Linked DNA regions of Homo sapiens. The protein of the gene in region 3 purifies or fractionates together with the protein of the main gene of each other region. This does not show direct contact. Each region holds a gene or a part of one and is shown on either strand. Other genes may lie near its edges. The genes, in order: AZGP1, MSLN, DDX31 and TCN1.

Evidence for each region.
Region 1: the proteins of DDX31 (region 3) and AZGP1 purify together in Homo sapiens (affinity purification with mass spectrometry; 2 studies listed by BioGRID and IntAct, with this or other methods). This does not show direct contact.
Region 2: the proteins of DDX31 (region 3) and MSLN purify together in Homo sapiens (affinity purification with mass spectrometry; 2 studies listed by BioGRID and IntAct, with this or other methods). This does not show direct contact.
Region 4: the proteins of DDX31 (region 3) and TCN1 purify together in Homo sapiens (affinity purification with mass spectrometry; 2 studies listed by BioGRID and IntAct, with this or other methods). This does not show direct contact.

Annotation. Positions count from the first base shown.
Region 1 is NC_000007.14:99,973,013-99,980,284, reverse strand, and holds the start of AZGP1 (zinc-alpha-2-glycoprotein precursor), read left to right. Parts: upstream 1-4,253; 5' UTR 4,254-4,264; coding exon 4,265-4,340; intron 4,341-7,272. UniProt on the Homo sapiens protein: Stimulates lipid degradation in adipocytes and causes the extensive fat losses associated with some advanced cancers. May bind polyunsaturated fatty acids.
Region 2 is NC_000016.10:756,784-763,738, forward strand, and holds the start of MSLN (mesothelin isoform 1 preproprotein), read left to right. Parts: upstream 1-3,950; 5' UTR 3,951-4,038; intron 4,039-4,289; 5' UTR 4,290-4,391; intron 4,392-5,888; 5' UTR 5,889-5,897; coding exon 5,898-5,982; intron 5,983-6,449; coding exon 6,450-6,493; intron 6,494-6,858; coding exon 6,859-6,908; intron 6,909-6,955. UniProt on the Homo sapiens protein: Membrane-anchored forms may play a role in cellular adhesion. Megakaryocyte-potentiating factor (MPF) potentiates megakaryocyte colony formation in vitro.
Region 3 is NC_000009.12:132,666,962-132,674,697, reverse strand, and holds the start of DDX31 (ATP-dependent DNA helicase DDX31), read left to right. Parts: upstream 1-4,714; 5' UTR 4,715-4,763; coding exon 4,764-4,838; intron 4,839-5,024; exon of another isoform or gene 5,025-5,026; coding exon of another isoform or gene 5,027-5,128; intron 5,129-7,736. Other genes in the region: GTF3C4 (general transcription factor 3C polypeptide 4), read right to left, coding at 3,743-4,099. UniProt on the Homo sapiens protein: May have DNA helicase activity and RNA helicase activity. Probably have ssDNA and RNA dependent ATPase activity. Plays a role in ribosome biogenesis and TP53/p53 regulation through its interaction with NPM1.
Region 4 is NC_000011.10:59,863,467-59,870,982, reverse strand, and holds the start of TCN1 (transcobalamin-1 precursor), read left to right. Parts: upstream 1-4,495; 5' UTR 4,496-4,512; coding exon 4,513-4,591; intron 4,592-6,896; coding exon 6,897-7,076; intron 7,077-7,516. UniProt on the Homo sapiens protein: Binds vitamin B12 with femtomolar affinity and protects it from the acidic environment of the stomach.

The DNA.
Region 1 (7,272 bases), on a different chromosome or scaffold from region 3:
ATTCCCATCTCTCCCTCTTTCCTTTAGGTGCCTGTGGAATCCCAGCCTTCCATGATGGAAGCAGAAATAGCCGCATCCTCCTTTTGCAGCCTCCCTGGCAATAGAACGAGCAGGTGTGCACAGGGTTTATGCTCAGCAAGTCGAAGCTACTGCCTTGGATATCAGGTCAAGTGTTAGGGAAACAAAGAGGAGGGCACAGTGGACAATGTTTTCTGGTGGTCTTGGCAGGGGTTGCAACTGCCAGCTCCCGGGGCAGTGGGGCTGCAGTAGCTGCGGGGGGCGTCTTGAGCTTCAGTCCCCCGGGATGTTGTAGATCCCGTGCTGTGGCCTCTGCTGCCCCCTGCTGGCAGCTTCTGTATATTTACTGGGCCGGTTGCAGGTGTGATTTTGACTGTTGGGCTCCTCTGGAATTCTGAGCCTGGGTTCTCCATCCTTTCTGTGGATTCTGAGAGCTAACCAATAAATACGTTTATTTTCTGCTTAAGGTCAGAACTGCATTACGTTTCCAATAACAAATACTCCTGGCGGATACAGAGATTGGTACAAGGATTGTTTCCAGGCAGTATTTACTCAGGGAAATGGAGGGCTGGGAAGCTGAGGTTGGTTACTGGGCCAGATTGGGGCTGCGCAGTGAAAACACAAGAGTCTTGGGGGATTCTGGCAGGCCTGGTGTGCAGTGATAACTTCAACAGTTGGCTGAGGTATCTGTTATGGTAGATTGGTGTAGGGACCAGCCCCACAGGGTCGGAGGGTTTTTCTCCCCGTGTGCAGAGACGAGAGAGTGTAGAAATAAAGACACAAGACAAAGAGATAAAAGAAAAGACAGCTGGGCCCCGGGGACCACTACCACCAAGACGTGGAGACCGGTAGTGGCCCCGAATGTCTGGCTGCGCTGTTATTTATTGGATACAAAGCAAAAGGGGCAGGGTAAAGAGTGTGAGTCATCTCCAATGATAGGTAAGGTCACGTGGGTCATGTGTCCACTGGACAGGGGGCCCTTCCCTGCCTGGCAGCCAAGGCAGAGAGAAAGAGGAAGAGAGAGAGACAGCTTATGCCATTATTTCTGCTTATCAGAGACTTAGTACTTTCACTAATTTGCTATTGTTATCTAAAAGGCAGAGCCAGGTGTACAGGATGGAACATGAAGGCGGACTAGGAGCGTGACCACTGAAGCACAGCATCACAGGGAGACGGTTAGGCCTCTGGATAACTGCGGGCGGGCCTGACTGATGTCAGGCCCTCCACAAGAGGTGGAGGAGTAGAGTCTTCTCTAAACTCCCCCAAGGAAAGGGAGACTCCCTTTCCCGGTCAGCTAAGTAGCGGGTGTTTTCCTTGACACTGAGGCTACCGCTAGACCACCGTCCGCTCGGCAAGGGGCGTCTTCCCAGACACTGGCGTTACTGCTAGACCAAGGAGCCCTTCTGGTGGCCCTGTCTGGGCATAACAGAAGGCTCGCACTCTTGTCTTCTGGTCACTTCTCACTATGTCCCCTCAGCTCCTATCTCTGTATGGCCTGGTTTTTCTTAGGTTATGATTATGCAGCGAAGATTATTATAATATTGGAATAAATTATAATATTGGAGGATTATTATAATATTATAATATTGGAATAATAAATTTGGAAAAAACTAATGATTAATGATATTGATATATAATCATATCTATGATCTAGATCTAGTATAACTCTTGTTGTTTTATATATTTTATTATACTGGAACAACTCATGCCCTCGGTCTCTTGGCTTGGCACCTGGATGGCTTGCCGCCCACATCTCCCCCCTTTTTATTAACTAGGATCGCCATCGCCATCATTGCTTGTCGTTGACTTCGGATTTGTTTTCGGACTCCTTGGAGGCATCTGCAGGCTAAAAGGAGACAACGTAAGCATACCAATATTAATAATGCCAGTGACAACAATGATCCTCCAAGGGGTTTGATCTATTTAAAGGGATTAAGATCAGATAATTGTTTAGTTATGCCTTCAAAAATGTCTGAGCCAGGAACAGTGGATAAATGAGCTTGTGAATCCTCGAAAATTTGCTCTTTAAGTTTTGAAATATCCAAGGTTAAGTTATCATCCCAGGCTTTTAAATGTCTTGAGACATTTTCCCAGCTATGTTGATATTTATTATAAGCATAAGGCATTATGCAATAATCAGAAGTATTCCAATCACTCTGTAATTGCATACGGTGTTCCAAATTCATATCTCCCAGCCAGATTACACTTTGGCGGAGATCATTAATTTGATTAGCTAATTTTTGATCAATTTGAGCCTGAGAATTCCAAAGTCTGGAGGAGTTTTTCTGCCATGCTTCAATTCAACATATTGAACGGTTTGAACAGAATTGTGGATGGCAACTCCAGCAGTTGCTGCTGTTGCAGTAACCGCAATTAGTCCTGCAATGATGGCAATAAGAGTAAAAATAAATCTCTTTGTTCTTTTGCGGATACCTTTAAGAACTTCATTGACTATGTGAATAGAGGGGGAAGACTCCCATGGACGATGTAAAGAAACTGGTATCCATACCCCCTCCCTAGCCCTTACCAAGAGAGTACTTGTAGTGGGATTAAAAGTAGCATCAATGCACGTGAACAGCTTACAGTTATCACATTCTATAGTTTGTGTATTGGGAATGATAATTATATTTCCAACCAACAGCATGTAAGGGGGTTTGACATAGCTCCTGATGGGTATCACCCGTTCAGATATGAGGGTGATGTTGAATGTGGGTGTTTTGGTATTAGTGTGAAGGAGTTGATAGGTAGTGTTCCATATCCTTATTCCTGTCATAGCTGCAGCTAATTTTCATAGTTGAGGATGTTCTGGGGTAACAAAGGGATGAATCATTTTTGGTCTAGGAGGAGTAATGCCTGCATCCATCCATTTAAATAGGTAAGGGGACACCCATTGTCTCAGCCTGTATGACTGCCATCCATCCTCTACATAATCTAACAAATAATTAAACTCTGAGCATGAGGTATTTTTGCTGGAGCAATCTTGCCAATAATGCCCTTTTGGAGCCCAATCAATAACAATACCTGCGGCTAGACTTTGGAGCACAACGGCCTTAGGAGCATTACAATTATTCCATAAAATTGAAGTCACTATAAAAGGTCCCTTTGTAGGTTTCTTTAACCAAAAGAGAGGCTGGGCACAGTTGCTCACACTAGTAAACCCAGCACTTTGGGAGACCGAGGCGGGCAGATCACGAGGTCAGGAGTTCAAAACCAGCTTGGCCAACATGGTGAAACCCCTGCCTCAGCTTCCTGAGTGCTGGGATTATAGGCATGTGCCACCACGCGCAGCTAATTCTTGTATTTTTTCAGTAGAGACGAGGTTTCATCATGTTGCCCAGGCTGGTCTCGAGTACCTGACCTCAACCTGAGGTGATCCAACCACCTCAGCCTCCCAAAGTGCTGGGATTACAAGCATGAGTCACCGCACCCGGGCCCCAGTCACTTTAGAATAGCATGTTGCTTTGTATTCGGAGGGTCTCTCTGCAAATAGCCCATCAACACTGAGCGTGCCTGGAAAGACCTGGTTTTCAAATAACTGGCTTCGTCTGTGTAAAACGAGTCTTGTTGTATGCATTAAAAATTATCTTGGCTGGGCGTGGTGGCTCACGCCTTTAATCCCAGCATTTTGGGAGGCTCGTTCTGTTGCCAGGGAGGCTGCAAAAGGAGGATGCGGCTATTTCTGCTTCCATCATGGAAGGCTGGGATTCCACAGGCACAGAAAGGAAGGAGGGAGAGATGGGAATGTGACTGTCCTCCAGACACAGCCTCTGGCAGGATCGGATGTGGGAGAGTGAGGGTCCCACCCCAGCTGGGGTCTACCCAGGTCCATGTCTTGGACATGTTGAGAGTTTTTCTGGAAGGCAGGGATACAGTGTGGTCCAAAAACACACAAATGCCCCTACTGGCCCAGGGGTTGTCACAATAGACTGGAAGGGTGACACATCCCAGGCGCTTGCCACCCATCACACGCACCTCCTACCCACTGGCATCCTTCCACCCCAGGCACACACAAAGCCTCAGTCCAGAGATCAACTCTGGACTCAGCTCTGAATTTGCATATCCTGTGTGTAGATTCATTCTTCATAACCTCTGCCCAGCCTAGCTTGTGTATCATTTTTTTTTCTCTATTAGGGGAGGAGCCCGTCCTGGCACTCCCATTGGCCTGTAGATTCACCTCCCCTGGGCAGGGCCCCAGGACCCAGGATAATATCTGTGCCTCCTGCCCAGAACCCTCCAAGCAGACACAATGGTAAGAATGGTGCCTGTCCTGCTGTCTCTGCTGCTGCTTCTGGGTCCTGCTGTCCCCCAGGAGAACCAAGATGGTGAGTGGGGAAAGCAAGGGATGGGTGCTGGAGAGGACTGGAAGGAGGTGAGGAACAGGACATGTGGCTGGGAGACAGGCTGGATGCAGCTGGGATACCCTGGCATACGGCAGGAATGGGTGCCCAAGGCTGTCAACTCCCTCAGCTCACACACTTCCAGGAGCATTCAGGGAGCCTCTGCGCTGGCCCGAAATAAGACCTTCAGGAATCTGAATCTAAAACCCCTAGTTTACAGTGAAAACAAAGACTCCAAAGACCAAGCGACCTGCTTGGGGTAGACAGTCAGGACGGAGTAGGAACCATATGCCTGGAGCTGCTTCTGCTCCTGTTCCTTCCCTCCTTCCGATGGCTGGGTACACCTGCCTGACGCTGAGGGAAAGAGAGAGCAGCCCCAAGGGGAAAGTGGGAAGGCAGGTTGGCTGGAGGGATGGTGCTAGAAGGAAACCCGTGCCCAAATCCCACACTCAGACACCACTGCAGTGGGTCTGGAAGGCGAGTGGCTGGAAGAGAAGAGAGTGGGAGCTCCGGGAGATCAAGAGTCACTCCTAGGATAAGGGAAGGAGGCTGTTTGTGGCATGAGAATGTGCAGGATAAAGACATGGAAGCGAATGGCTTCTCAGTTGTGTGAGTTTAAAATTCATGACATTTACAAATTGTCAGAAAAGGTGTTATATGTTTGTTATATAACAATCACTTTGGAATGTTAATCTGATTCTGTGCCAAAATCTGAATTACTCAGGGTTCTCCAGAGAAACAGAACTAATAGGTGGTACACATATACATATATATGTACGTACACATACATACATACACTGTATACACATGGATACACACACACATAGGAAGAGATTTACATATATGTATACAAAAGAGAGAGAGAGTAGAGATTTATTTTAAGAAATTGACTCACACTATTGGGAGGAGTAACAAGTCCTAAATCTTCAGAGCCGGCCAGCAGGCTGGAGACCCAGGGAAGAGTTGATGTCTTAGTCTTGATTCCAAGGGCAGACTGTAGGCAGAATTCTTTCCTCTTTAGGGGACATCTGAGGCTTTTTCTCTTAAGGCCTTCAACTGATTGGATGAAGCCCACCACTATGGAGAGTAATCCACTTTACTCAAGGTCTACTGATTTTTTTGTAAATTAAAAAAAAAACTGTGGGTGCATAGTATGTGTATATATTTATGGGGTACATGAGAGGTTTTGATTCAGGCATGCAATGTGAAATAATCACATCATCAAAAATGAGGTATCCATCCCTTCAAGCTTTTATCGTTTGTGTTACAGACAATCCAATTATACTTTTTTGGTTATTTTAGTTTTTAAAAGTATTTGATTATTTATTTATTTATTTATTTTTGAGACAGAGTCTCACTCTGTCACCCAGGCAGGAGTGCAGTGGCATGATCTCGGCTCACTGCAACCTCCGCCTCCCAGGTTCAAGCAATTTTCCTGCCTCAGTCTCCTGAGTAGCTAGGACTACAGGCACCTGCCACCACACCTGGCTAATTTTTTTGTATTTTTAGTAGAGACGGGTTTCATCATGTTGGCCAGGCTAGTCTTGATATCCTGACCTCGTGATCTGCCCGCCTTGGTCTCCCAAAGTGCCGGGATTACAGGTGTCAGCAACTGCGCCTGGCCTCTCTTTTGGTTATTTAAAAGTGTACAATTAAATTATGATTATTATTATTATTTTTGAGATGGATTCTTGTTCTGTCACCCAGGCTGGAGTGCAGTGGCGTGATCTTGGCTTACTGCAAACCTCCGCCTGTTGGGTTCAAGCAATTATCTTGCCTCGGGTGTACACTGCCACACACGGCTAACTTATGTATTTTTAATAGAGATAGGGTTTCACCATGTTGGCTAGACTGGTCTTGACCTCTTGACCTCAAGTGATCCACTCACTTCAGCCTCCCAGAGTGCTGGAATTACAGGCACGAGCCACCACACCTGGCCCCAGTTAAATTATTATTGACTATAGTCACCCTGTTGTGCTATCAAATAGTAGGTCTTATTCATTCTTCTTTTTTTTTTTTTTTTTGTGACAGAGTTGCCCAGGCTGGAATGCAGTGGTGCAATCTTGGCTCACTGCAACCTCTGCCTCCCGGGCTTAAGCGATTCTCCTGCCTCAGCCTTCTGAGTCGCTGGGACTACAGGTGTGTGCCACCACGCCCGGCTAATTTATGTATTTTTAGTAGAGATGGGGTTTCACCATGTTGGCCAGGCTGGTTTCGAACTCCTGACCTCAAGTGACCCACCTGCCTCAGCTTCCCAAAGTGTTGGAATTACAGGCATGAGCCACCACACCTGGCCCCAGTTAAATTATTATTCACTGGAGTCACTTTGTTGTGCTATCAAATAGTTTTCTAACTATTTTTTTTGTACCCATTAACCACCCTCCCAATTTCCCCCCAACCCTGCCACTACCCTTCCCAGCCTTTGGTAACCATCCTTCTACTCTCTATGTCCATGAATTCAATTGTAGGGTCTACTGATTTAAAGGCTAATCACATTTAGACACTCAGGAGCAAGAATAATTTTAGTAATTGAACTAGGATTCTGCCATATGACCTCCAACATCATTAGCACCTGTGTAAATTGTATCATAAAATAATTATGGAACTATTATGGAAATGTCCCTCTCTCCCAGATCCCACCTTGTACCAAAATGCAAGGTACAACCCCGGGAATTCTGAGCTCCATCCTAGTCTTACCCTGTGCTAATTCAGTCTGGGTCATTTCTTGAATTTTCTGGTAAATTCTCCTTTCTACCCTTTCTAACTATATGTATTTGTCAGGTTAAGCTAGAAGTGTTAATTTTTTTTTTTTTGAGATGGAGCCTTGCTTTGTCACCTAGGCTGAAGTGCAGTGGCATGATCTCAGCTCACTGCAAGCTCCGCCTCCCGGGTTCATGCCATTCTCCTGCCTCAGCCT
Region 2 (6,955 bases), on a different chromosome or scaffold from region 3:
TCACTGCAGCCTCAAACTGGCCTCAAGCTATCCTCCCACCTCCTCCTCCCAAGTAGATGGGACTTCAGGCCTGCGTCACCATGCCTGGCTAGTTTTTAAATTTTTTGCAGAGATGGGGTCCCATTATGTCACCCAGGTTGGCGTGCAGTGGCGTGGTCATAGCTCGCTGCAGCCTCAAACTCCTGGGTCAAGTGATCCTCCCACCTCAGCCTAAAGTGCTGGGACTACAGGCATGCACCATCACACCTGGCTTTTGTATCTTTTTGTGTGTGTGTGCAGTGTCTGTTTAAATCTTTTGCCCATTTTTAAATAACAGCTTTACTGAGAGATAATCCACACTATACAGCTCACCCATTTACCCATTGGAAGTACCGTTCGGGCCCAGTGTGGTGGCTGCAGCCTGAAATCCTAGCATTGGGAGGTCAAGGTGGGCGGATCGCCTGAGGTCAGGAGTTCAAGACCAGTCTGATCAACATGGTGAAACCCCGTCTCTACTAAAAATACAAAAATTAGCTGGGCGTGGTGGCACACGCCTGTAATCCCAGCACTTTGGGAGGCCAAGGCGGGCTGATCACTTGAGGTCAGGAGTTTGAGACCAGCCTGGCCAACATGGTGAAACCCCGTCTCTACTAAAAATACAAAAATTAGCCGGGCGTGGTGGCGGGCGCCTGTAATCCCAGCTACTCCGGTGGCTGAGGCAGAAGAATCGCTTGAACCTGGGAGGCGGAGCTTGCAGTGAGCCGAGATCGAGCCACTGCACTCCATCCTGAGCGACAGAGGGAGACTCATCTCAAAAAAGAAAAGGAAAGAAACTCCATACCCCTTAGAAGTCAGTCCTCCTGACTGGTCTCCCTCCCGCGGGTCTTACGAAACCACTCATCTACTTCCTGTCTCTCTAAATTGACCCACTCTGGACGTTTCATCTAAAGGGACTCGTACGACGTGTCCGTGTTTCCAGGCTCAGCCGCGTTGCAGCACATATGGCCTGGGTTTTACGGGATTGTCTGTCTTATCATTGAACTGCAAATGTTCCTTGTCAATTCTGGGTATATGTCATGCAAATATTTCTCTTATTCTGTGGCTTGGCTCTTTATTTTCTTCACGGCATCATTCAAAGAGCAGCAGTGTCAGTCATGGTTTCTGCCTTCTTTCTTCCATCTAACAGGTCTTTGCCTGTTCCAAGCCCACAAACACTTCCTCTTGAATTTCCTTCTAATGGTTTTATAGTTTCAGCCTTTATACTCAGGCCTATGGTTGGCTTTGAGTAAATTTTGCATATAATATGAGGTAGGAATCTACGTTCTTTCAATCACATAGACACATAGATATGGCCGGGCATGGTGGCTCATGCCTGTAATCCCAGCACTTTGGGAGGCCGAGGTGGGCGGATCACGAGGTCAGGAGATCGAGACCATCCCAGCTAACACGGTGAAACTCCATCTCTACTTAAAAAAAAAAGCCAGGCATGGTGGCGGGCGCTTGTAGTTCCAGCTACTCAGGAGGCCGAGGCAGGAGAATGGCATGAACCTGGGAGGCGGAGGTTGCAGTGAGCGGAGATCGCGCCACTGCACTCCAGCCTGGGCGACAGAGCAAGACTCCGTCTCAGAAAAAAAAAAAATCACACAGATATTCTTATTTTTCTTCTTTCTTTCTTTCTTTTTTTTTTCAGTAGAGACGGGGTTTCATCATGTTGGCCAGGATGGTCTTGATCTCTTGACCTCATGATCCACCTCGGCCTCCCAAAGTGCTGGGATTACAGGCGTGAGCCACCACGCCTGGGCTTTTTTTTTTTTTTTTTTTTTTTTGAGATGGAGTCTCGCTCTGTTGCCCAGGCTGGAGTGCAGTGGTGCCATCTCGGCTCACTGTAAGCTCTGCCTCCCGGGTTCACGCCATTCTCCTGCCTCAGCCTCCCGAGTAGCTGGGACTACAGGCGCCCGCCACCACGCCCGGCTAATTTTTTGTATTTTTAGTAGAGACGGGGTTTCACCGTGTTAGCCAAGATGGTCTCGATCTCCTGACCTCATGATCTGCCTGCCTCGGCCTCCAAAAGTGCTGGGATTACAGGCGTGAGTCACTGCGCCCGGCATTTTTTTTTTTTTTTTTTTTTTTTTTGAGACAGGGTCTTGCTCTGTTGCCCAGGCTGGAGTGCAGTGGCGTGATCTCGACTCACTGCAACCCCTACCTCCTGGGTTCAAGTGATTCTTCTGCCTCAGCCTCCTGAGTAACTAGGATTACAGGCATGTGCCACCACGCCCAGTTAATTTTCATATTTTTAGTAGAAACGGGGTTCCTCCATGTTGGCCAGGCTGGTCTCGAACTCCTGACCTCAGGTGATCCGCCCACCTCGGCCTACCAAAGTGCTGGGATGACAGGCGTGCGCCACCACACAGGGCCTCATTTAAAGATTCTTTATAGAGATGAGGTGTCACTACGTTGCCCAGGCTGGTCTTGAACTTCTGGCCTCAACGGACCCTCCCGCATCGGCCTCCCACGGTGCTGGCTGAAGGGTGAGCCCAGGCTGGCCACAGCGCGTTTTCATCATTGTCCGCAGCTTGCAGTCGGCTGGTTCAGAGCTTAGCCGGGCACATGGGCCCCTCTGAGGCTCCTGTTCAGGGCTCAGCCGTGTCTACGGGGCCCTCCGAGCTCTTCCTGGACCCTCCTCGGCTCCTTCAGTTCAGGGCTCAGCTGGGCACGTGGGCGCCTCCTTGGCTCCTCCGGCTCAGGCCTCTCCTCGAGCTCTGGGCCCTGAGTATTCTGGGCTCCTTCCTTGGTTTCCTTTGGCCTTTGGCCGGGAAAGTTGTGGGTGTCCGTGGCAGCCTGGGCCACTTCACAGCCCCGCAGCCAACCTGCGGCTCCTTCAGAGCAAAGCTGTGTGGACACAAAGGGAACGCCACTCGGAGCTGGCCTCTCCCTTTACCTGTGAGTTCCCGCCCAAGCCGGCTGCCTTCTGTCCCCTCCCCAGAGCCCTTGGGTAACTGGTTTGCTACAAGAGTGTCTGGAATTTTTCAGTTGTTCTCTGCGGAAGGGAGTTTTTAAAAGGCCCTTAATCCCTTCTTGACATTTGTAAGTTGACGCTTACACCTGGCAGCCTTGCTGAATTCTGTGTGCGTGAAGGTCCGATTCCACCGCGAGTCACGATAGAAAACCCACTCTGTGGAGAGACCAGAGATGACCGCCGCGCACACCTCCGTTCAGCACACAAACCTTTGCAGGTGTTCATAGCGGAGGCAGATTCCGTACTGGGGATAAGAGCTCACGACATGCTGGGAGGGGTTTCAGGGGCAGGGAGGGGGCTTCTGTGGCCCCAGGTCAGGAGGAGCAGCTCTTCCATCAGCAGCAGGCAGCCAGCCCAGATGCGTAGGGAAGACAGCTCCCACTTCGCCAGGCCAGAGAGCGCCCGGGGGCAGCTCTGTTCCAGTCGACCCTGCGAGAAAGGGGTGTGCGTGTGCCTGGAGCTGGGCCCCGTCCTGCCTCCCTGACCTGTGTGCTCCCACAGCCCTGAGACGGACGGCTCACAGCCTTGCGAGGCCCACACTGCACTGGGGGTCAGGCTTGTGCTCCCGGGAGTCCTGTCTGGGCTGCGTGGCCACCATCCAGAGCCTGCTGACCTGCGACTGGGGGGGCCAGTGCTCCCTGGGTTTCAGCACCTGAGAATCAGAGTGGGATCCCGTGAAACCTGGGCCCAGGCTCCCACCCACGCCCCACACCCACCCAGGGAAGCCATGAAACCTGGGCCCGGGCTCCTACACATGCCCCACACCCACCCAGGGCAGCCGTGAAACCTGGGCCCGGGCTCCCACCCTCGCCCACCGAGGGCAGCTTTGCCTTCCTGGGCATCCCTCCTCCCCCAGGCCTGGCCCGCTGCCTGTCCAAGGCTCCTGTGCGGGGTCTCCACCCACACATTCCTGGGGCGTGAGGCGCCACCACTCCCTGCTGCCCCGGGCAAAGCCGTCATTTGTTCCCTTTGACGGCCCGGGAGGCTGCCAGGCTCTCCACCCCCACTTCCCAATTGAGGAAACCGAGGCAGAGGAGGCTCAGGTGTGGCCAATCACCCTGCACATCAGAGTTACCCTGGGCAGGGCCCACTGAGACCTGGGAGGGGCCACTCGGGACCTGGAGGGCTGGGGGCTGCCCGGGCGTTAGGGGTAAAGCTCCCTACCCAACTGCGCAGAAGGCCTCAGAGGCCTGGGGGCTGGGCTTCCCCTTTCACATCGCCCTTTAGAGGCCCACGTGTGGGCATTGGCCCGCGATCTGAAAGGGGCTGTCCTGTTCCTCATGGGCGCTGCCAGCGCCACGCACTCCTCTTTCTGCCTGGCCGGCCACTCCCGTCTGCTGTGACGCGCGGACAGAGAGCTACCGGTGGACCCACGGTGCCTCCCTCCCTGGGATCTGTAAGTAACAACCTTTGAGCTCTTCCTGTTGTGGTGTGGATGGAATCTGCACCTTCCATCTGGAGAACTGGGGCCGCCCCAGGCCGGGCTTCCAGCACCAGAGCGATGGTCAGGCTTCAGCTGGACGCAGATTTCACCCCGCAGGGCACACGCAGACCCATTTGTTTGGAAGCGGCAGTCCTAAGGCAGTGCAGGTGCCTCCACGGCCCCAGCCCAGCTCTCCTGCAGGTGTAAAGGATGCAGATTCCAGGGCCCCCCATGGCCTGCAGAGGCCCCTCAGAGCAGGAAGGGCCGGGCTCTCGGGGAGCCCCCATCCCAGGTGCTGAGGTCCTTGGGTCACATGGAGCTGGGGTGGGGAGTGCCCAGGTCCCCTGTGATCCGATGGCCACGTTTCCCTCCTGGCTTCACGCACCCCAAGGGCTGGGGGTCCCACTCACTGCCCATTTTCTGGCTGTGGGGGGGGTCTGTTTTCTTCCACCTTCTCAAGGTGTTCAGAGCCTCAGGGGCCTCCCCACTTCCTCTGGGGCCTGGGGGAGTAGAGTCTGTCACCCGGAGGCTGTGTGCCTCCCCGCGACATTCCCCAGTGGCCGGGCCGACCAGGCAGGCTCTGCCTGTGGATGGGGCTGCTGAGCATGAGCGTGTGACCCCCATTTCTGAGCTGTGGGTGGACCCACCGGGCCTGGGCCAAGGTTTTCAGGAGGCAGCTCTATTCTACTCCGCCATGGTGGCCTCCCTGAAAGGGGTGAGTGTAGAAGCCAGTTCCCTCTTCTGCGAGCCCCACCCCTACCCCAGGAGGACAATTCTTGTTCAGGGAGGGTCTCCCCACCCACTTCCCCACCCCACAGTGGCCCACAGGCCCCACCCTAGAGAGTACAAGGGGCTCCCCAGGCTGCTCACTGGCCCAGCCCCGCCCCACCTGGACTGCACCTGAAAATGGGCTCAGAGAGGCCAAGTGGCCCAAAAAGACGCTGCTGGGTGGGAAGGGGCGGTGGCCTCTGTGCCCGCAGTGCCCCTCCTGCCTCAAGGGTGTTGTCTGCCTGGCAGAGCCTGGGGTGTTCACAAAGCCCAGGCACCTGCAGCTGAGGGCAGGGGAGAGGGAAGGGAGCCACATCCAGGCGACGGGGCTGCTCGTCCTCCTGTGCGAGAGTGGGGAGACTCAGGCCAGCCCAAGTGGGCGGCGGCCCCGGTTGCTTGATCTAAGCTCTGCTCACACTGCCCTGCCCTTCTGGGAGAGGGGTGGGCGCCAACTGACTCCTGGGCTGTCTGGGCTGGGGACCGGGATCTCAGACCCAGCCCCTCCCCTGGACAGGAGGAGCCAGTCCAGGGGACAGAGGGCTCAGTGGCTGGAGGGCAGGGCCAGGGTGCGGACACAAGCTGCAGGTACCACAGAAGTTTGCTCTGGGAGCCCCTCCTGGGCCCATGTGGCCCCAGGCTGGCCCAGGACAGAGGCGTGGGGTGGGAGCAGGGGGTCCCATCCTGAGTCACTGCCCTCCACAGACACAGACCATGGCCTTGCCAACGGCTCGACCCCTGTTGGGGTCCTGTGGGACCCCCGCCCTCGGCAGCCTCCTGTTCCTGCTCTTCAGCCTCGGTGCGTACTTGATGGGGCTGCTGGTGAGGTGGGGACGGCCCAGGGGCCTTGGGGGCCAGGCCCCCAGCAAGGCTTTGCCTGCCCCTGCCTTCTCCCTGGAGTGCCTGTGGTGGCCACGTCTCAGCAGCAGTCTCTGCCCCCAGAGGTGACTGGAGCTGGAGATCCAGCCAGGGAGTGATGGGGCTCAGGACACAGTGGGGATGTCTGTGGGATGGGTGGTCTGACCGGCCAAGCAGCCGGGTCTCAGGGAAAGATGTGGAAGGCCGGGCTCCCTGGTGGAGTCCCGACCCCTGTGCCTGGGGGACTGTGATGTCACGGGGTACATGGGCCTGAGCCACTGGCTTCTCTTTGGGGTGTGCACAGGGCTGGCTGTGGGGGCGGCCAGGCTCTGCCTCCTTCCTCCCCTGGGTCAGGGCACAGCCCAGAGGCCCGCCCCCTCCCCCAAGCTGTCCCCTCTGCCCCTTTAGGATGGGTGCAGCCCTCGAGGACCCTGGCTGGAGAGACAGGGCAGGTAAGGTCCCCTCTGGGGAAACAGGGGAGGGTCTTCAGGTCCCAGGTGGGGGTGCCATGCTGTGTTCTCTCTGTCACGTATCCACGGTGCTTGCCAGTTTCCACGGTCCTTGCTTGCAAAGGGGCACCTGGACCTGCATGTGACTGGCCTGGGAGCAGCCAGGTCCAGGGAGCGGCAGAGCTGAAATTGCAGCTGGGTCTGGGAAGTAGATGGATGAGAAGCAGCCAAGCCCATGGGTCTGAGACACAGCCAGGCCTGGGAAGTAGCTGAACTCGGGGAGTACCTGGCCCAGGGGTAGCGGGACCTGGGAACTCCTGCTCCAGAGAGCTGGTCTGAGCCATGTTCAGCAGGCCCTGTGTCCCCAGGAGGCTGCGCCCCTGGACGGAGTCCTGGCCAACCCACCTAACATTTCCAGGTGGGTCTGGGGTCCTCACAGTCCTCAAGGGTGAGGCTCGAGGGGCC
Region 3 (7,736 bases):
GCAAGGTAGACATAAAGTTGTGTACCAAATGAAAGGTAGATATAAAATTGTTCATCAAATCCTTTAATACTGTGAACTAAGCAATACTCCTTAGAATAGGTTAAATTTGCTACAAATAAAAGCTACTGTAGAAGTAAACTCACAGGATTGGTAACCCAAAGCAGCAGCACGGGATGAAATAAAGGAAGCTTAAGCAACCCTTGGTCCTACTCATTGTGGGAAGAATTCTTGACAGGATGGAGAGCAGTACAGATCTTGACTGGTAGGAAAAAGTCTTAGGGTTTTGTGTAGCAATTTCTGACATATGTTTCAACTAGACTACTGAACCTCCCTCCAACTCTCCCTATCACAAAACTGTTAACAAATCAAGTATTCAGATGCCCAAGGAGTATACTTAAAAAGTCCAGCTCCCAGAGGCCTGCCCGCAGCCAATCATTTAATTGTACACCATCCAGTTTCCAGTTGACCACTATTAGGTTGGTGCAAAAGTAATTGCGGTTTTCACCATCACTTTTAATGGCAAATACTTTTAATACTAACTGTTAGGCATTTTGTAAGCACCTGACAAAAATTCACTTGAAGCTTTTAGACAGTAAGCTTCTTGAGGACAGGTAATAGAGTCCAAAGACAGGCAACAGTTATTTAACTTAATGTAGCAGATGAAGTTAATACTTTCTAAGGCTCCTAACAATTGATGCACAATACAATTCGGTACACAAATATTATCAGAATTTGGAACTATACACAAATGTCTCACTAGATGAGTCACTAAATCAGTAGTCCAATGGGAAAAACAATTCTGACATTCTTAAATCACTATTTCATTGCTTTTCAGATTTATACTGTCCACCTTTATATCATACAATCTTATAAAACAGCTGATAATTAATGTCTGAACTATTACATAACTGCAGATTTTCCTGCAAATTCATAATCTAAATAACAGAATTATAGAGCAAAAGCTTCAAAGGTGTTTAGTACCTAGCTTTCTAACAGTGCTACACTAAAACTGTCATCTGCGCTGCAGACTGTCCACCATTTAGGTTAGCGCGAAGGCATGCTGCACGGCACCGAGCAGATTTAAATCCACAGACTGCCAATGGGTGGAGTCATCAAAGTGCTGACACAGACTTCTTTACATTCCTACCGTCACACCAGTTTTAACCCACAGAGGGCTCTTGTAGAACTGCAGGGTCAACTCAGCATTCATTCACTTCAATCAGTCTAAAAAGACTGCTAAATGACTGATGGTTTATGTGATGTGCATATTAAAAAAAAAACAACAGTACAGAAGGGGAAGATGTTACTAATTAATTTCATAGAAGCCATTTGTCAACTATAAGAGAGCTATATAAGGATTTCCTGTTACTAGTTAGCAGTTGTGGTAAATGTTAACTGAGGCAAAATGACAGTCAAAATTTTATCAGAATACTCATGTCCACAACCACGACATTAATCCAGACTCCTACTCCTTCATACCTGTATAACTGCATTATATTTTCTTTCTTTTTTTTTGAGACGGAGTCTGGCTCTGTCGCCCAGGCTGGAGTACAGTGGCGCAATCTTGGCTCATAGCAAGCTCCGCCTCCCGGATTCACGCCATTCTCCTGCCTCAGCCTCCCAGTAGCTAGGACTACAGGCGCCCGCCACCACGCCCGGCTAATTTTTTGTATTTTTAGTAGAAACGGGGTTTCACTGTGTTAGCCAGGATGGTCTCGATCTCCTGACCTCGTGATCCGCTCGCCTCGGCCTCCCAAAGTGCTGGGATTACAGGCGTGAGCCACCGCGCCCGGCCCAACTCATTATATTTTCACCTTGAGCATTTACAGCGTGCCAAGAACTGGGCCAAGTGATTATGTGTGTTTAATCTTCCAAAAAACCTAAACAACGCTTCATTATCCCCCTTTTATAGATAGGCCTATCTTGTGCCAAAGCCCAGTCTCTTCACTTTTATTTTACACTGATCACAACAATCATCTTCTTGCCTCTATCCAGTAATGTTCCTGAACCACAGCAGGTCACTCTATGCTAATGAAACTGTAACAGCATCTTAAAGACTTCCTAGATTGAAGCCAACTTCCTCATACCGACCTTCCAAGTCCACAAACTGGTCTCATCTTACTTTCTCGGACTCTCTAGAAGACCTACTTGAGCTCATGTACTGATCCGTCATTATACAAACAATAATTAATTATGTTCATGACTTAAACGTGTATGCACATGGGATGAATGCCTCATTCCTGCCGCCTGGAATGCCCTTTCCTTCCTTCCTCTTACAAACCAAACACTACCTTCTTTAGGACTGCTGCAGATTCACCACCAGATGACCTGCCCCATAAGTCTCTCCCCTTACTACTCCCTCCTTTCTTTACATTCTCTCTGCTAAGGTATTCGATGTCTACTATACTGACATACATACTTTCCTTGAGTTGCTGTGCGGATGAACATCCTTGGAAACAGTTAAATTCCTTTACAGCAGAAGATACACCTTTTAAATCACCTTTCTTCTGCCTCCCTCCTTTTGTATTTCTCAATTTCATAGGGTTGCATCTGTCTATCTGATTTGTTTACACTTGAACAAATGTGTTCATATCTTCTTCAAGAAGATCTTAGAGGAAGCTTAGTCATACAAGCTGACTAACAATCTAACAACAGAAAGATGTTTGAAACTTGAATTAAGTATGCTACAAAGTGATGAGGGTTATCTGCACCCTACCTATAGCTAATGACTCATATTTTCAATGGTTTTCCAAAATAAGAGTTTACGAACACATAAACATGTTCTCTATGTGCGGATACACATCTTTACAGTGCTTATCACTACCTGACAGGACCTTATCATTTGTGCTTGACTTGCCAAAGAATGTAAGCTTCATGAGGGCAGGGGTTCTGTTTTGTACACTGCTTTATTTCCAGAACATGGGGCAGCACCAAGCAGAATGGTATTCAAATATCTATTGAATGTATGAATATACACTGACAGTTCACATGTAAGCGTACACCTCTATCAAGGATATATGGAAAGTTTTTACACCTCTAAGCAACTAAAAGGAACGCTATGGCTTACTACTTGACCTTGCGCTTGAAGTTTAAGATAGGTAGTTGTTTCGAATCTTTATTTTCATTCAACATCCCAAAGATGTTTAGCTAGTAAAGAAAAACTAAAGTACAAACCCCGAGATCCAGTATTTACCCGTTTGCCCAAGGAGAGGCGAGGACCATTCATAATAAAGTCACTGAAACAATTAAGACAATGGATGGGACCAGTTTTTCTTTTCTGAAGCTAAAGAGGCGCGAGAGGAGGACACACACAGTAGACAAAGCCAGCCAAGAACCTCGGAAAGTCGGCCCCAAACAATAGCAGCAACGACAGAGGCAGGCCCCGGGTTGGATCTACAGGGGGTGGAGTCTCAGAAAGCACCATCGAGTAACCCGCTCCATGTGCGGGCCCGACGGAGGGGCGAAGGAGGGGTTCCTGGGACTCAACTCCGGGAAGCCCCCTGGGTGTGTACCTGTGTTTGCGGCGGCGGGTGACCTGGGGAAACAGGGTGCAGACAGCTGCAGAGCTTTTCTTTTTTTTTTTTTAAGCTGTGGTAACCCTGGCTGCTTAATAAATCCCCAGCGCTCGGTGCGAAGAGGGAAATCCCCGGACAGAGTGTGGGATCGGATTCCCCTGGGACGGATGATGCGGCCGCGAGAGGGGGACAGGGGAAGACCCCAGGGATGGCGGGGGATGACTTACTTTGAGGAGACAGCTGTTGAGCGGTGCGGGCACCGAGGTGCGGTGGATAACCAGGTCCTGGCCCGGGTTGTGCACGTCGCAGATGAGCTCCAGCACAGCGATGCTGCGGGCCGTGGACACAGACACGCGGTGGTCCTCGGACCAAGCCAGCGGTTCCAGGCCGCTCACCGCATACTGCAGCTTCACGGCCGGCTCCCGCCGAGTCACCATGAGGCGGAATGCAGCGCTGGGCCCCGGGGCCGCGTCCGCTGCTGGCTCCTTCCCGCCCGCCTCGCCGCCCCCCTCTCCCTCCTCCTCCCCAGACGGCGCAGGCCCGTCGTCCGCGGGCCCCACCCGGGCCTGGTCGGCCGTGTTCATCTTCTCTCAGGTGCAGAGGTCGGACGCCCTGGCGCTCCACGCAGTCGCGCGACCACCTCCCGGACCGCCGCCGCCACCCCCAGCGCCCTCCGCGGCGGTTTTCTCCCCTCAGGCCCCGAGCGCCGCCGAGCCAAGAAGGACCCCGCCGTTGCCAGGCAACGCGGCCCTACCAGGTGGCCAAGGAACTGCCTGTCCAGAAAAAGGACAGCGAGCGGGGAGCCCCGAGGACCCCCTTTTCCCTGCCCAGGGATTGAGCTCCAGAGCCTGTTAGGGAGCTACCCAGACAGGCTTTAGTTCCTAAAGTGCTGAGGAAACGCACGGGGCGGTAAAGGGGAGGCTCGTCGGTGAGATGGCGCCGGATCTCGCTTCTCAGAGGCATTCAGAGAGCTTCCCCAGCGTGAACTCTCGGCCGAATGTAATTTTGCCAGGCCGCGAGGGACGCAGAGAGGGGCTGCCACCAGGCGGGGGCACGCGCGGTAGTCTTGTCCCTACCCGCCCGGTGCCGCCGTCCCCGGCTCCCCTCGGGACGAGTCCGTACAGCTGGAGCCGTTCCGGACCCGGAAGGGGCGGTGGCGCAGGGTCCTCGCGCGTCCCACGTGGGGTCCCGGGCCCAGCAGTCTGCGCACCGGGCTCGCTGCTGCACCACGCGTCACCCACGCAGACCATGGCAGCCGCCGACGGTTCGCTCTTCGACAACCCCAGGACGTTCTCCAGACGTCCCCCAGCCCAGGCGAGTCGGGTGAGTTCTGACCCGGCTTCAGCTCCGTCCCCACCCGCGGCCCGGCTGTGGGCGCGCCGCGAGCTGCAGCCGTGCCTTGGAGTCGGGTTTCGAGTCATTCACGGAGTTAAGCGGGAGAAAGACACCGGGCAGCTTCGGGACAAGTTGCGCCGAAACACGTGTCTCTAACCGGAACACCACCCGCAGGGATGCGCCTGGAAGCGGGGAGTGGAGCGGTGTGGAGGGGCGGGGAGCTGGCTCCTGCGCCTAGAAAAGTAAAGGAAGGAATTAGAGGCTGTTTCCCGTGGAAGGTAGGACCTGAAGTTCCGGCGCAAGTCCCAGGCCAAAGCTTAACTTCTCTAAGCCAGTTTCCTCGACTGAGTGCGGACTAAGCTCTGATTTTTTTTTTTATCTTGCCCACATTCCTGTCTGGGAAGAGTCATGCCCTACAAACCATAAATTCTCATCAGATGGCTTTCATTTAACCCTATATATCGTGACTTACTTTCCAAACTGGCTCTGGCCTAACATTATGTGACAAAGAAGAAAGTTAAAATATTACCCCTAAACATGTTTCTTTGCCACATTTTGAAATGGCTTTGCAAAGCTGTTCTTTGGGGGGGGCGGGCGGGGTGGACATTTGCATCTGCAAAGAATCTCTATTAACATAGCTAGATCTTTTTCTTCCAGGCCCTCCCAATCCTAAAGAGATTAAGAGTCTACCACCTTTCAAAGATCTGAATAGGAAACACTTGTCTGTTGTCTCTAAGGGCAGCCACTAAAGACTTGAAAAGAACCTTGGTCTCCACAATCTTTTATCTTAACCTGAGCATTTTCTTTGTATCCATCCCAGGTGTTTAGACAAACTCAACCGTCAACTAGAAAATGTTTAAATTTACCTATAGCCTGGAAGCCCCCGCTTTGAGTTGTCCCACCTTTCTGGACAAAACCAGTGTATTTCTGAAATGTATTTGATGTCTCATGCCTCTCTAGAATGTATAAAACCAAGCCGCGGCCGGGCGCGGTGGCTCACGCCTGTAATCCCAGCACTTTGGGAGGCCGAGGCAGGCGGATCACGAGGTCAGGAGATCGAGACCATCCTGGCTAACAAGATGAAACCCCCGTCTCTACTAAAAATACAAAAAATTAGCTGGGCGTGGTGGTGGGCGCCTGTAGTCCCAGCTACTCGGGAGGCTGAGGCAGGAGAATGGCGTGAACCCAGGAGGCGGAGCTTGCAGTGAGCCGAGATCATGCCATTGCACTCCAGCCTGGGCAACAGAACGAGACTCCGTCTCAAAAAAAAAAAAAAAAGCTGCACCCCGACCACCTTGGGCACATGTTCTCAGGACCTCTCGAGGGCTGGATCATGGGCCATGGTCACTCATACTTGGCTCAGAATAAGTCTCTTCAGATATTTTTGAGTTTAACTCTTTTGGTCGCCATGAGGAAGGTTCGTTTGTTTCAGGAATGAGGACTGGCAACTAGGAGTTTTTTTGAAGAGCTTTCAAAAATGGGACAGATTTTCATCCCCATGCAATGGAGGGGGATAGGAAAATCGGTTTCATTGATATAATCCCATTGCTAGAGAGGGGTAAGATGCCCTAGAATTAACTTAAGCAGTAACTGAAAACTGGTTTCTAGGATAGTTGATTTGTCTCTTAGAAAAGAGGACTACAGGACAGAAAGACTGATTAAAATCATAAAGTGATCATCAAACTTTAGGATTTAGATGTTTGGCAGTAAGGAGTCCAGCTAGCCAAGTGTAGCTGCATCTGGGTGGAGCGGGGAGAAGGATAGAAGAGCCACTGGGAGCATGGGATTTGGAATAGGATACACTTGGGATTCGGATGCTGCCCTTGCTGCACACTAGCTCTGTGACCTTGGAGCAAGTCACTTAATCTTTCTGATTCTCACTTTTCCTATCTATAAAATGAGAACAATAATTTCTACTCCATAGAAGACTATTGTAAGGATTCATTGAGATAGTATACATGAAGACTATACGTTGTCTGGCCCATAGAAGCACTTAATAAATGCCAACAGTATAAAGTAGTTTTGGCTCCATTTTGGATAATAGATTGCTACATCAGGAGGTCAGTGGGGTGCTTGTGTCCTCTGCAGAGCCTGGTAACTAACACATAAGAAGCATTGAGTAAATACATATAGGCTACCTAGTTTTATGGTTATCAAAAGGGGATTAATTAATGCAGTGATGACAGGTGTCTGCGGTGGCCTTGTCTAGATCTACGTTTTTTGTTTTGTTTTGTTTTGTTTTTTTGAGATGGAGTCTCGCTCTGTCTCCCAGGCTGGAGTGCAGTGGCGCGATCTCTGCTCACTGCAAGCTCTGCCTCCTGAGTTCACACCATTCTCCTGCCTCAGCCTCTTGAGTAGCTGGGACTACAGGTGCCCACCACCACACCCGGCTAATTTTTTTGAATTTTTAATAGAGATGGGGTTTCACTGTGTGTTAGCCAGGATGGTCTCCATCTCCCGACCTTGTGATCTGCCCACCTCGGCCTCCCACAGTGCTGGGATTACAGGCGTGAGCCAGCCAGGCCTAGATCTACATTTTCATTGATGTCGTGAATGAGAATGATGGATATGCTGATGAGACTTGCCAGTAGCCTGAACTTGAGATGGGTAGCTAATATACTGGATTTAGAAAGACTAACAGCTTAAATTATGCTGTATCTAACACTATGCAGAAATTTTCTCTCTAAAAATACTTTCTGGGCTGGGCGAGGTGGCTCACACCTGTAATCTCATCACTTTGGGAGGCCGAGGCAGGCAGATCACTTGAGGTCAGGAGTTGGAGACCAGCCTGGCCAACACGGTGAAACCCCATCTCTACTAAAAATACAAAAAAAAGGCTTGGCGCAGTGGCTCACGCCTGTAATCCCAGCACTTTGGGAGGCCGAG
Region 4 (7,516 bases), on a different chromosome or scaffold from region 3:
TTGAAATTATATCAAGTATCTTTTCTGACCCCAATGGTATGAAACTGGAAATCAATAATGTGAGAAAAATTGGAACATTTACAAATACATGGAAATTAGATAATTCACTCCTGAACAATCAAGGAGCCAAAGAGGAAATTAATGAGGAAGTAAAAAGTATCTTGAGACAAATGAAAAGGTAAACTCAATATCTGAAAACATATAGGATACAGCAAAAGCAGTACTGAGAGGAAAATTCATAGTTATAAATGTCTAGATTAAGGAAAAATAAAGATTTCAAATGAACAAACTAAGTTTAAACATTAAGGAACTAGAAAAAGAATAATCTAAACCCAAAGTTATCAGAAAGAAGGAAACAACAAAGATCAAAGCAGAAACAAATAAAATAGAGAATAGAAAAACAATGGAAAAGATCAACAAAACTAAAAGTTGGTTTTCGGAAAAGATAAAAAAAAATCGACAAACCTTTAGCTAGACTAACCAAGAAAAAAGAGAGAAAACTCAAATAAGTAAAATTATAAATGAAAGAAGTGAAGACATTACAACTGCTATCACAGAAATACAAAGAATCATAAGAGACTACTATGAACAATTATATGCCAGCAAATGGGATAACCTAGAAGAAATGCATAAATTCCTAGAAACACACAATGTGCCAACAATGAATCATGAAGACATAGAAAATCTGAACAGACCAAAAATATAAATAAGGGGACTGAATCAGCAATCAAAAACCTCCCTACAAAGAAAAGCCTAGGACCAGATGTTTCACTGGTGAATTCAACCAAATACCTAAAGAAGAATTAATGGCAATTCCTCACAAACTGTCCCAAAATATTGTAGAAAGAATATTTCCAAACTCATTTTACAAGATGAGTATTACCCTAATACCAAAGCCAGATAAGGACACTACCAAAAAAAAAAAAAAAATCACAGGCCAATACCCATAATAAACATAGATGCAAAAATCCTCAACAAAATACTAGCAAACCAAATTCAACAGCACATTAAAAAAAAAGCAAAAAAAAAAAAATCAATCAAAAAAATTTAGCATCCTTTCATGATAAAAAAAAACTCTCAACAAATTGGGTATAGAAGAATTCTACTACTGAGCCATTAAAAGGAATGAAATAATGTTAATAATAAGTGAGAAAATATTTTTTTTGGTTTTCTACTCCTGTGTTGCTTAGAATAATTGCCTCCAGCTCCATCCAAGTTGCTGTGGAATATTTGAGAAAATATTTGCGAACCTATATCTGAAAATAGATTAATATCCAAAATATGTAAGAACCATGCAATTCAATAGCAAAATGAAAACAAAAACAAAACAAATAACCTGATTTTAAAATGGGCTAAGGACCTCAACATTTTCCAAAGAAGACATAAAAATGGCAAACAGGCATGAGAAAACATGCACAATATCACTAATCATCAGAGAAATTCAAATCAGAATAATCACATCACCTTATACCTGTTAGGGTGACTATTATCAAAAAGACAAAAGATAACAAAGTATGGATGAGGATGTAGAGAAAAGAGAATCCTTTGTGTTTGCAGAATGTAAATTTGCACAACCATTATGGAAGACAGTGTGGTGGTTCTTCAAAAAATTATAAATGGAACTGCAATATGATCCAACAATCTTAATTCTGGGTACATATCCAAAGGAAGCAAAAGCAGTGTTTCAAAGAAATATATGTACTCCCGAATGGGCACGGTGGCTCACGCCTGTAATCGCAGCACTTTGGGAGGCTGAGGTGGGTGGATCACCTGAGGTCAGGAGTTTAAGACCAGCCTGATCAACATGTTGAAACCCTGTCTCTACTAAAAAAAAATAGAAAAGTTAGCCGGTGTGGTGGCAGATACCTGTAATCCCAGCTACTCTGGAGGCTGAGGCAGGAAAATCACTTGGACCCGGGAGGTGGAGTTTCCAGTGAGCTGAGATTGCACCATTGCACTCCAGCTTGGGCGACAAGAGAGAAACTCTGTCTCAAAAACAAACAAACAAACAAACAAACAAACAAAAATATATATTATATAAAATATGTACTCCCATGTTCATTGCAGCATTATTCACAATATCAAAGACATAGAAACAACCTACATATCTGTTGATGGATGAAGGGATAAAAATTGTGATTTATATACACACACACATATATGTGTGTGTGTGTATATATATATTTATATTTATATAATAGAATAGTATTCAGCCATAAAAAAGAAGGAAATAGTGCCCTTTGAGACAGCATGGATGAACCTGAAGAATATCATGCTAAATGAAATAAGTCACAGACAAATACTATGATCTCATTTATATGTAGATTCTAAAAATTATCAAATACATGGAAACAGAGAGTAGAATGGTGGTTTCCACATAAGTTTTATATAAATATGTGAGAGAGAGAAAGAGATTTATTCCAAGGAGTTGATTCATGCCCTTATGGAGGCTAAGAAGTCCCACAGTCTACTGTCTGCATGCAGTAAAAGTCAGTGGAGTGATTCAGGCCAAACTGAAAGCCCAAGAACCAGGGGAGCCGATGGTGTAAATCTCAGTTTGAGGGCTGGAGAAGATAAGATGTCCTAGCTCAAACAGGCTGGCAGGAAGCAAAAAAAGGGTGAATTCCCCCTTCCTTCACCATTTTATTCTATTCAGGGTCTCAATAGATTGATTGATGCACACCTACATTGGAGACGGCATTCTACTTTCCAGAGTCCACCAATTAAAATGCTAATCCTATCTGGAAACACCCTCACAGATACATCGAGAAATAGTGTTTAATCTGGGCACTCAGGTGCCAGTCAAGTTGACACAGAAAATTAACCATCACAGAGGTACAATGCAAATAGTGGCTCATTAAGTCATGACATCCTTAGCTAGGCTGACAGTATTCTCTAATAGTTCTCAGAAGAACTGTGATAGGCAACACTTCTCACATGTAGCAACTGCCCTGGCAGGGCAGAAATTCACATTTGATGTATAGCTCTCTGGTTTTCCTCCTTGGTTAGGAAACTCTCATGGAATCTATCTTAGGAGAAAAATCATAGTTTGGAAACCACTATGCCAAAGATCCCCTCATGTGCTGGGTTCTCCAATACTGCCTGCTTCAATTTCAGACTTACAACTTTTACTTCCGTTTTTAAATTTTTTTATTTCAATTTTTGTAGGTACATAGTAGGTGTATATATTTATGGGGCTCATGAAATGTTTTGATACAGGCATGCAATGCGTAATAATCACATCATAGAGAAGGGGGTATTCATCCTGTCAAGCATTTATCCTTTACGTTACAAACAATCCAGTTATACTATTAGTTATTTAAAATGTACAATTAAATTATTATTGACTATAGTCACCCTGTTATGCTACCAATAGTAGGTCTTATTCATTCTTTCCAATATTTTGTACCCATTAACCCTCCGCATCTCCTTCCCACCACTAGCCTTCCCAGCCCCCAGTAACCATCTTTTCATTCTCTATCTCTATGAATTCAATTGTTTTGATTTTTAGATCCCACAAATAAGTGAGAACATGCAATGTATGTCTTTCTGTGCCTGGCTTATTTCACTTAACATAATTATCTCCAGTTCCATCCATTTTGTCACAACTGACAGGATTTCATTCTTTTATATGGCTGAATAGTACTCCATTGTGTATATGTACATTTGCTGTGTTCATTTATCTGTTGATAGACACTTAGCTTGCTTCCAAATCTTGGTTATTGTAAACAGTGCTGCAACAAACATGGGAGTGCAGATATCTCTTCAATATACTGGTCTTCTTTCTTTTGGGTATATAGCCAGCAGTGGGATTGCTGGATCATATGGTAGCTCTATGTTTAGTTTTTTGAGGAAGCTCCAAACTGTTCTCCATAGTGATTGTACTAATTTACATTCCCACCAACAGTGTACAAGGCTTCCCTTTTCTCTACATCCGTGCCAGCATTTGTTATTGCCTGTGTTTTGAATAAAGCCATTTTTAGCTGAGATGAGAGGATATCTCATTGTAGCTTTGATTTCCATTTATCTGATGATCAATGATGTTAAGCACCTTTTCAAGCACTTTTTCATATGCCTGCTTCCCATTTGGATGTCTTCTTTTACTTCCATTTTTATATGTTGTATGTGTTTGCATGATCAAATCTACTTTATCAGGAAACATAAAACATAAAGTGAAACGGAAAAAAAAGGAAAGATTATAGGAAACAGTCATTTGCCTAATATATCTTCACTGCACGGAAGGCAAATAATAGATATGAAACCCGAAGGTTTAGGACAGGAGACAAAGGAAAGTTATTGCCTTATTCTCCCTAACCACATCCTTCAAGTCTTCTTCCTTATTTATTACATCACATGGACAAATACACTTGACCACACCTCCTGACATTGCTCAATATTTGCTTGAGTGAAAAGAGGCTGAGGCAACCTGAAGGAGGAGCTCTCATTACCTTCTGCCCATCACTTAATAAATAGCCAGCCAATTCATCAACATTCTGGTACACTGTTGGAGAGATGAGACAGTCACACCAGCTGCCCCTAGTGGGGCTCTTACTGTTTTCTTTTATTCCAAGCCAACTATGCGAGATTTGTGGTGAGTAAACTTTGAGCTAAAATTACTCTAGAGTGATAGTCTACTGAAAACTGTTGACAAGAGACTCTATGTAGAGTTACCTGAGAAAAGATCCCATTCCAGTTTCGTATGTGGTTGGACTCCATGAATGATGAAAAGGGTGGCAGGAGATGGTGAGGAAAGTCTCACAATGCATGTTGTTGTAAGAGGAATTATAGATTGTGTATTCACTTGCCTAACTGCTCTTTCTATGCTCAGATCCTCTCTAGCACAGCATCCCTACCAAGTAACTCCCTATTCATGTGACTTTTCAATGACAGAAAATTTATGCTCCCAGAAACTTTTCTAGATCATGGAAAGTTATCTTTTGGTCTTGATATGCAATCTTTTTTCCCTGAAATTCAATGCATGATTTTTGGGTTAACCCCTTGTAACTACATAGAAAAAAATAATAATCTCTTTCAAATAGTGATGACTGCTGTCTTGTCATGAGTGAGTTTAGATGTTCCAAGTTGCATGTCCACCTTCCTTCAACTCTTTCCCAGGACACATGGGATAAAGTTCCATCATCTCTTGCATGGGTGTTGACCCCAGAGATTGTGTGGTTCTGTAAAAGAACTTTAAAGTAAGAGAAGGGAAAACTAAATTCAGGTTTAGTTTGATCCCTTAGTTATTGAATGACCCAACATTTCTGAATTTCTTTAGCTTCATTCATAAATAAAGGATAATGAGGGGAGACTATTGAAGCAAATTATCTCATGAAGTCTGGTGCAGTTCTCAAGTGCATGAATTCTCTTTTGTGAGACTTTACTCTGAAATTGAGCTTCAAACCAGTCCAAAGATTACTAGGTGGTACTATCTGTGCTCTCTAACCAGTAAGAAGAGAACACCACAGAAGACAGGCTTGTATACATACAGGCTAAAGCATAGACTCTTCTGACTCTGATTTTTCTTCTTGGCTTGACATTTCCCCTGTTGGATCCTAAGAATAGGGAATGGCTATGTAGGTTTTAGCTTTCAATTCATTTTAAATAATAATGATAATAATTAAATTTATCTTTGAGACTCAAGGAAGCTGATTTGAGTTGTTGATCAGGAACTAAAAAGTCTGTTTCAGGGCCAGAAAATCTGCTGAGCTGGATGGTTCCACAAAATCTCAGAGAACTGACTCACAATTGTTCCATTGTGTCTGCAACAAACCATGACCTTTCTACAATCACTCTATTCAGATCTTCTTGACTCATTCTTTTAAAGTAAAGAAAACTGGGCAAGAGAAATTACATTTCCTTGATTCTCAAGTATAGTGATAAAAACTCCAGTTGAGCTGGAAATAATAGTATGTGCAGCATTTTACAGTTTATTCGGTGGTTTCTTGTCCAATATCTGTAAGGTAAGTGTTAACAGCCACAATTTTTAAATGAGAAAACTAAGAGTAAAACAAGTTACATAAGTTATTATCCACAGTCATAAGTTAAGGAGCACAAAATGTGGCCAAAATCTGAATCCAAACCTCATGTTCTTCTCACTCTCCCACTAATCCATTAGATAATCTGGAGATATGTAGGATTTGGGGCTACTCCTCAAGATTATGGAAAAATACATTGACAAAGTGTCCTGTGTTTAAATAAATAGTAAATCTTTTTATTCTCCTCTATTTCCTTGGGAGCTATGGATTTTCCTACTTCCACAGTATAATGTGACTTCCCTCCATCTCTGGAATTGGGGCATATTGTAGGCTAAAACTGGAGAGTTTTTTACAGGCTGCATAATGCTAAATAATGATCTCGATGCCCAGCCAGCTGGGTAATCAGACAATGAAGTTTTGGGGTCAATCACCAGTATAACACAGAATTATTACCTGCATTTTCTCAACATTAACCCAGTTGATTTAGAAGATGGAGAAGGAAAGAACTGAATCCAGGAAGTAGAAAGTCCTGCTTACTGAGAGTCAGAAGACATGTAGTCTAGTTTCAGCTCAGCCTCCAATTATGGAAGTTTCTTTAAGGACAATCTATCTAAGCTTCATATACAAAATTAGGGAATGATGCTAGATTTCCCAGGCAGGAGTCTGCCAGTACACAATGATAAGTCTGCACCAGTTGTTAAAATATTAAAACATTTTCATGTTGGTTGTTAAAGGAGTAATGTCTGGCATGGGGGTGGGTTCAAGACCCACCTTTGTATTATTCCACCAACACAGTCTGCAGCCACTGGATTGGTCTAGGTCTGTGCCATATCTGTTACTAAATATTTTTATATAACCCCTGCTGCAAGTCTTACTATTTTCTGAGTATGTGTTTCTTATTTCCTTCCTTCTCTGCCACAGAGGTAAGTGAAGAAAACTACATCCGCCTAAAACCTCTGTTGAATACAATGATCCAGTCAAACTATAACAGGGGAACCAGCGCTGTCAATGTTGTGTTGTCCCTCAAACTTGTTGGAATCCAGATCCAAACCCTGATGCAAAAGATGATCCAACAAATCAAATACAATGTGAAAAGCAGATGTAAGTTGCTGTATATTCTGGAAGATTTAGAAAAAAATCTACCTATTTAAAGATTATCTGCAACTAATCCTAAAAAATTATGCATCCAAAGTATCCCTGCTACATCCCTTCTAATGGTACCAAACTTGAGGTAACAGAAACATGCCCAAAATACAATCCCATGCCATTCACCCTAGAGCTAGGTCTTGCTTCTTTTGGTCTTAAAAACCACTTTTCTTCAAGAAGCCACAAACAAAAGCTATGGATTTTTATCCATTAATGCTGTTATATAAGCTAGCTTAGTTCACAACCACATGGGAATACAGATCATAACTAAGAAAGCTGGTGATGGAAAGGCAACCATGGAACAACCCAGATTTGAACTAGGTATGGGTGGGCCTTGAACCAGTCATGTTAATACTGAGCCTCAGTTTTCTAATTAGTATAAGGGGAAAAGAAGC